Linked DNA regions of Homo sapiens. The protein of the gene in region 1 purifies or fractionates together with the protein of each later gene. This does not show direct contact. Each region holds a gene or a part of one and is shown in the gene's direction. Other genes may lie near its edges.

Region 1 (3,451 bases):
TATTGGTAAGTATCAGTATCCTTCCTCACTAGTTCACTTGCTTTTGTCATTGTGATTTTCTCTGAATTTTGAGAAGGTATATGTACAATAGACATTTAAGTTGGATACTAAAAGGGTATAAAGGACTTCTGATTTACTCATTCAAAGATAATCTATAATAATACTTAAAAGATGAAGATCTTTCACTACTCAAAGGCAGTTTGAGCTACTTTTCTTTGGTAGCATCACCCTTTGCATTTCCATCAGTTCTTTCTTTCCACTGAGACCCCCCCTTAGCTCAACTGTGTTTCTTTCGGTAGTCCCATGCCTCTTTACCTGTAATTCCACACAGCAACTGTTTATAAAGTGGAGTATTTCCTGCATTTCTGTGTCTGAATTCTGCCCATGGTACAAAGCACAGAATTTGACTGATATTTTTCCTGCAATACAATCACCAATGGTAATGACAATGGTCAGAAAACCAACTGAATCCAGTGGGGTCAAAATCATGATGGTAGATAAAGATGAGAGTCTTTTATTTTTTTTTCAATCTATTTGCTGAACGCTTTGTTTTCTGTTTTTTGTTTGTTTGTTTGTTTTTTGTCTTGTTTTCGGCTTGTAGAGCTCTGAACTCACACACTTTGACCTTGGTTCTCTTTTCCTTTGTCTGTAAGTGCCCTCATTCTGTGACTTTATTTGCAGTGACCTGTGCAGTGGTCCAGAAGAGCGCATATGGCTTTCACACAGCCAGCTCCTGTTTTTGGGATACCACATCTGATGGTAAGAGATCTTAAGCTGATTTACACAAAATCCAACTTTTAGCAAAGTCAAACTGCACTTTTTAACCAAGTACTTATTTAATTCTGATTAAATTCTGAAAAGACTATCAACAGTATTGCTTTGTACCTAGTAACAAGTATACCTTCAGACCGATATGAAATGTGAAAACTTAACAGGTTGAAGGAAATAAGATATTAAAACATGTGAAAAATGTATGTGTATATATATATATATATATGTGTGTGTGTGTGTGTGTGTGTGTGTGTGTGTGTGTGTATATGTGTGTGTGTGTGTGTGTGTGTGTATATATATATATATATTCTCTGATAATTTTTATGTTTTGCTGGTATTTCAAAATCCTTTTTTTGTGTTTCAGGAACCTGTACCGTAAGATGGGAGAACCGGACCATGAACTGTATTGTCAACGTTTTTGCCATTGCTATTGTTCTTTAACTGACTAAAAATGTTGGGCTAAAGCCATTAACTTAAGAATTTGTCAGTGTATCCTTTCCAAAAAGAGTAATAGTTGTTTACTAGTGTGCTAGATGAAAAGCGTGCAATATGCTTTAAAGCTATCAACAAAAACTGAATATTATAAGCAAGCAATATCATAGTAATTGGCAGATTAGCTCATATTCTATACAGCATCGTTTAAATAGGAAAAATTTAATGCTAGCAAAAAATAAATTTAGAAATATGGCATGACATGAAAATACAATCTTATATTTACACCAGCTTTTCACTAATATTTTGTACCTAAGGTGATGGGGAACTCCATTCAGATAATAAAATTCTCTTTCAGCTAGAGAAGTTAACAGGAATAAATATATGAACAAAAAAGCTGCAAGGATAAATGTGGAGAAAATGATGAGAATTAGCTAACATTTTTAAGTTTTTTTAAACTTTCTTCCCCTCAGTTGTACTTAATATTTAGTGGAAAGTAATAATTTTTTTAATTTTCTATCAACTAATAGTATAGTAACAACTATGATTAACTTGTTTACTTTTTCTGAGGATTAGTAAATCAATTTTTTTTAATTTCAAATTTTTGGATTTACACTTGAGGGTAAATTAAATCTGGTAAACTGAATTTCCTAGTTAAATAAAATTAGTTGCAGTATATGATGAACAGTGTATGACTCAAACAGCTGCCTTACAATTCACTCATTCCATGTGGAACAAACATTTATCAGATGCCTATTATGGGCATATGTCTCTGCTAAGCACCATAGTTGTCAATGTGCTGTGCAAATGCTAAGTTCCTTTTAGCAATTGTTCAGTTGGAAGACGTATTAATATTTGGGGAAGGAAAAGAAAGTAGTTGTTTTACAAGGGAGGAAAAAAGTGAATCTGGTTACACATATGGAAGTAAGCAAAATGAAAAGCACTTATTGCTTTCTGACAGAATTATAGATGTAATTTTAAGAGTTGCTCCTAGCAAGTTAAAAGTGCATATAAAATATGCAACTCTTAGTTAAAGGCCTTATTATCAGTCTTACCTATACAAGTAGTAAATTTTGTCATTGCTTTAGTTACAACCATCTGTAAATAACTTAAAAGACTTATTATGTGGGGTTCAAATTGAGTGGAATAAAGTATAGATTAAAAGTATACAATCCTTAGCACGTTATCTCAGGGCTTATGAAATGTAATTAAATTTATTAAGAAAATAGATGAAAAATTAGGGTACACAGCTGGCCACCAAATGCGAAGTCAATCTGCTACTTAACCCTGAAAACAAAATCAGTTTTGCATATTACCACTAACACTAATACATATAGAGAGCGGAACCATAACTCATTGAATTTTGGAGAGGAATAAGCTTAGCGTTAATATTGACAATATTAAGGCAATATTCTTGTAGGAATACTATGTGCATGTTTGATATTTTGCCAAATAACAATAATTAATAATTGTTCAATGTTTAAGAATAATATTAACAAAATAAAGGAGTTTAATGCAGTGATCTTTGTTTTTGGCACATCAAAAATTCTCAGTCATTATTCATGTTTCTTTATGCTGCTGGCTTTTGTGCCCTGGAAGATCATAATAGTGACCAAAATATACATGCAGACTTGTTTTTTATTATTGTTGTTTAAGCATAATTTAAGAAAAAAAATTTTTACCTGGTGAACTTGCTATCTGCTCTGTTTCTAGTTAAAATATAATAAATATTATCTTCCTGTGCTGTACTTTTGCTTCTGGATAATCATTTAATAGTTAGAGAAATGACATTCTGCTTGCTCTTAGAAATTCTAAATAGAAGAAATGCTGGGGGTGGTGGCTCACACCTGTGTAATCCCAGCACTTTGGGAGGCAGGTGGATCATTTGAGGTCAGGAGTTTGAGACAAGCTTGGCCAACACGGTGAGACCGCATCTCTCTTAAAAATACAAAAATTAGCCAGGCGTGGTGGCACACATCTCTAATCCCAGCTACTCAGGAGGCTGAGGCAGGAGAATTGCTTGAACCCGGGAGGCGGAGATCGCAGTGAGCCGAGATCGTGCCACTGCACTCCAACCTGGGCAACAAAACAAGATGCCGTCTCAAAAAAAAAAAAAAAGAAAAAAGAAAGCAATTCTAAATAGGATAAATGAATATGGGACCACATAGATATATTATGCATATTATGCAGAATAAATACCATTAAAATAGCAGCCCAAATCCAGTATTTACCATTACAACATAATTAA
Region 2 (3,833 bases), on another chromosome or scaffold:
CCTCCTTATGACTCCATTCAAATCTACGGTTATGAAGGCAGGGGCTCAGTGGCCGGGTCCCTGAGCTCCCTAGAGTCGGCCACCACAGATTCAGACTTGGACTATGATTATCTACAGAACTGGGGACCTCGTTTTAAGAAACTAGCAGATTTGTATGGTTCCAAAGACACTTTTGATGACGATTCTTAACAATAACGATACAAATTTGGCCTTAAGAACTGTGTCTGGCGTTCTCAAGAATCTAGAAGATGTGTAAACAGGTATTTTTTTAAATCAAGGAAAGGCTCATTTAAAACAGGCAAAGTTTTACAGAGAGGATACATTTAATAAAACTGCGAGGACATCAAAGTGGTAAATACTGTGAAATACCTTTTCTCACAAAAAGGCAAATATTGAAGTTGTTTATCAACTTCGCTAGAAAAAAAAAACACTTGGCATACAAAATATTTAAGTGAAGGAGAAGTCTAACGCTGAACTGACAATGAAGGGAAATTGTTTATGTGTTATGAACATCCAAGTCTTTCTTCTTTTTTAAGTTGTCAAAGAAGCTTCCACAAAATTAGAAAGGACAACAGTTCTGAGCTGTAATTTCGCCTTAAACTCTGGACACTCTATATGTAGTGCATTTTTAAACTTGAAATATATAATATTCAGCCAGCTTAAACCCATACAATGTATGTACAATACAATGTACAATTATGTCTCTTGAGCATCAATCTTGTTACTGCTGATTCTTGTAAATCTTTTTGCTTCTACTTTCATCTTAAACTAATACGTGCCAGATATAACTGTCTTGTTTCAGTGAGAGACGCCCTATTTCTATGTCATTTTTAATGTATCTATTTGTACAATTTTAAAGTTCTTATTTTAGTATACGTATAAATATCAGTATTCTGACATGTAAGAAAATGTTACGGCATCACACTTATATTTTATGAACATTGTACTGTTGCTTTAATATGAGCTTCAATATAAGAAGCAATCTTTGAAATAAAAAAAGATTTTTTTTTAATTCTGGGTTTGATTCTTAACATTGAAACAAACGTTAAGTATTTCTAATGATCCATTTATATTTCTAATTTAATTGTGATCTTTTAATAACCCTATTTATGATCTGTTGTTGTCTGTCTGCTGCTTTTATTGTTTATTTAAAATCAAATATGTTTTACAAATGTTTTTTCAGACAAGATTCTGTAACATCATGTAAAGCTTTTTTGTACATTCTTGGTGTTAACCTCCTGGCTTCTCTTCACACACATCTTCTAAAAAAGAAGGATGTGAAAGAACTAGGTCAGTCTATGACTTTGCAATATGTGTTATATAGTATGCATTTATCTTGTATATCAGTAATTTGATGGTTATGAGAGATGAATCCATGAGGGAATGGAGCTATCAGAACTCTAATGTTCCAGGTATACATTCTATGCCCCACACTGAGCACTGGGGAACTGGGGGACTAGAGTCAAAAATATAAATTTGCCCAGACTCTAATGTTATTCTATTTTTTCTTCTGTTGAACTTACCAGGCTATTGTAAGACTCTTGATAGTTGAAACTGCTTATTTTTCCTCCTGTAATTTTAACTAATTGTAAAATGATGTGGCATTTTATGTTTTAATGAGAATGGGCGATTCATTTAAAAAAGCTTTGTTTAGAATATGCTTGGGGCCGTAAGCTCAGAATGAGGGCAGGGACCATTTTGGATTCTGAGAGTCGATGCCATTTGGTCCAGGAGTGTGTCTACAGTCCCCTGCATTCCAGCTAGTTTCTTGGGGATTGAAACTTATGTGAAGGGCATTTCACCTGTTCAGTTGGGCCAAAGGTCAAAACGTAGCAATACTTGGGGAAAGACCACATAAAGTCACACTGCAAGTGCTTTCCCTCTTTCCCCCTACACACAGGGCACGTGCTTTTTCTTGGATTGCAGACAATTTTTACAGTTTTTTTCTGACTTTATTGTGAAAGTTTGTTTCAAGCATTTCTTGATATCATGTTATGTACTATTTTTATGATTTAGTCAACATGCATACAAAGAAATGTTTTTTATGAAGTGCTCACTTCCATTTTACTTTGCATTGAAATCAAATTGGGCTGAACACTTCAATGGAATACATTTTGTGGACAATGTCACTTTAGAATCTTTCATCTCAGTGAAGGATTACACATTCTCAATACTTCCATAATTGCAGGTTGTGTTCATTTTTTTATATAGTTTTTGTAATCCAAAGAATATTTTGCTAGATTTGCACAGATCTCCAATTGAATTTGCAATGAAGAAATAACTCAAAAGGAATATGAATAGCATTTAAATAAGTATACAGCTGTAAGTAACCCTGTCACCATGGATGATCCTTTTCTCTAGGAATGTATTTGGATTAGAGATGACAACTACATTTTCGCATTTTTATGTTGAAGTCTTTTTTAAAAAGGCTGTTTACTTTTCAGTAGTTAAGAATACTTGTTTTTCTTTTTCTTTTTTTTTTTTTTTTTTACCTTTTATTTTTTCGTTAAGCCTCTATTGTTTGTAGAACACTCTTAGAAACTTGGAAATAAAATGTCTTTCCCAACTAGTGGAGTCCTTTTTCATTTGGAGCACATTGCCTTAAAAGAAGTCTTAATTTAAACGGTCCTTCCTTATTCTAAAGTAATCACTGTTTTATACCATCTATGCAGCTAAAAGAAGGAACATGCTTCTGTTCTTTTCCTCAAGTAATGGTTATTGTTTCTAGTCATCATTCATTCATTGATTCATTCATTAATTCATCAAAATCTTATTTTATAAACCCTGTTCCACTTACTGGAGGATTCAGAATGAATCTTACTACCTTTTCTGACATCTTTTGATAATTCAGCCCTGTACCAAAGTATCCACCTTGTTGTCTTATAATCACCTATTTACCTATTTGCCCTCCTAGAAAATGCAAGAAGATATTTTCTCTCCTTCCAAATTGAAGGAAGAACATAAAAGATATAACAGGAAGGAGATGGTGAGATATAGAGTGTGAGCGGAAATTAGGCCAGCTGTGGCAATTCTGGACAGATCTTGGGTTTAGCTAAGTTATTTCTTTTAGGCCTGGGTTTCTGGGGGTGACAGGGAAGATAAAAGAGTAGTTTATTTGCACCTCTTGGAGAATTGCTTAAAAATATAGAGATCATGGCTCTGTATGTCAGGTGGAACCAGGTCAGGAGTATTTGAAACTGCTCCTGGGTCATTGTGACATATCCTTCACATCTTTTTGAGAAACTTTATAAGACAATGGGGGTGAATGGGGGCTGGGCAGTTGGAGTCTCTGAGCAGAAGAGGGGCAAAATTTATTTGGCAGGCAGTGTGGAGGACAGATTAGGAGCATATAAACCCAGAGGTGTGCCCCAGGAGGGCTTTTGCAAAGGTCAATATGAGATAGAATGAGGGCCTGAAATAATTCAGTAATTTGGAGATGGAGAAGAGGAAAGACTTCTCTGCTCTTGCACTGCCATCAGCCTGGTCTGGGCCATGGTCATCTCTGACCCGGAAGACTGACCCCACCTCTTGGCTCACCCTCTGCCTCCCAACCTCCTCTTCACAAAGAAGCCAGAGGGATACTTTTAACACACAACCCAGATCACATGACTTCGTAACTTAAACCTCTTCACTGGCTTCCCAAAGACTTAAAATGAATTCTGATGCCTTTATTTTATTGCTTTACATGAACAGGGCCCTGCGAACCTCTCCAGTGTCATTCCACTCCATCCTCCTTTCAGTGCACGATGCTCCAGCCACACTGGCCATCTTTCGGTTCCTGATACAAAAAAAAACACGTTCCTTTTCCATGGAAAGCAGGTCACCCTTGTTAT

Evidence for each region.
Region 2: the proteins of DYNLT3 (region 1) and CDH11 fractionate together in Homo sapiens (co-fractionation; one large-scale study listed by BioGRID). This does not show direct contact.

What each region holds. Positions count from the first base shown.
Region 1 is NC_000023.11:37,838,336-37,841,786, reverse strand, and holds the end of DYNLT3 (dynein light chain Tctex-type 3), read left to right. Parts: coding exon 1-5; intron 6-681; coding exon 682-759; intron 760-1,135; coding exon 1,136-1,212; 3' UTR 1,213-2,951; downstream 2,952-3,451. UniProt on the Homo sapiens protein: Acts as one of several non-catalytic accessory components of the cytoplasmic dynein 1 complex that are thought to be involved in linking dynein to cargos and to adapter proteins that regulate dynein function.
Region 2 is NC_000016.10:64,943,959-64,947,791, reverse strand, and holds part of CDH11 (cadherin-11 isoform 1 preproprotein), read left to right. Parts: coding exon 1-189; 3' UTR 190-3,833. UniProt on the Homo sapiens protein: Cadherins are calcium-dependent cell adhesion proteins. They preferentially interact with themselves in a homophilic manner in connecting cells; cadherins may thus contribute to the sorting of heterogeneous cell types.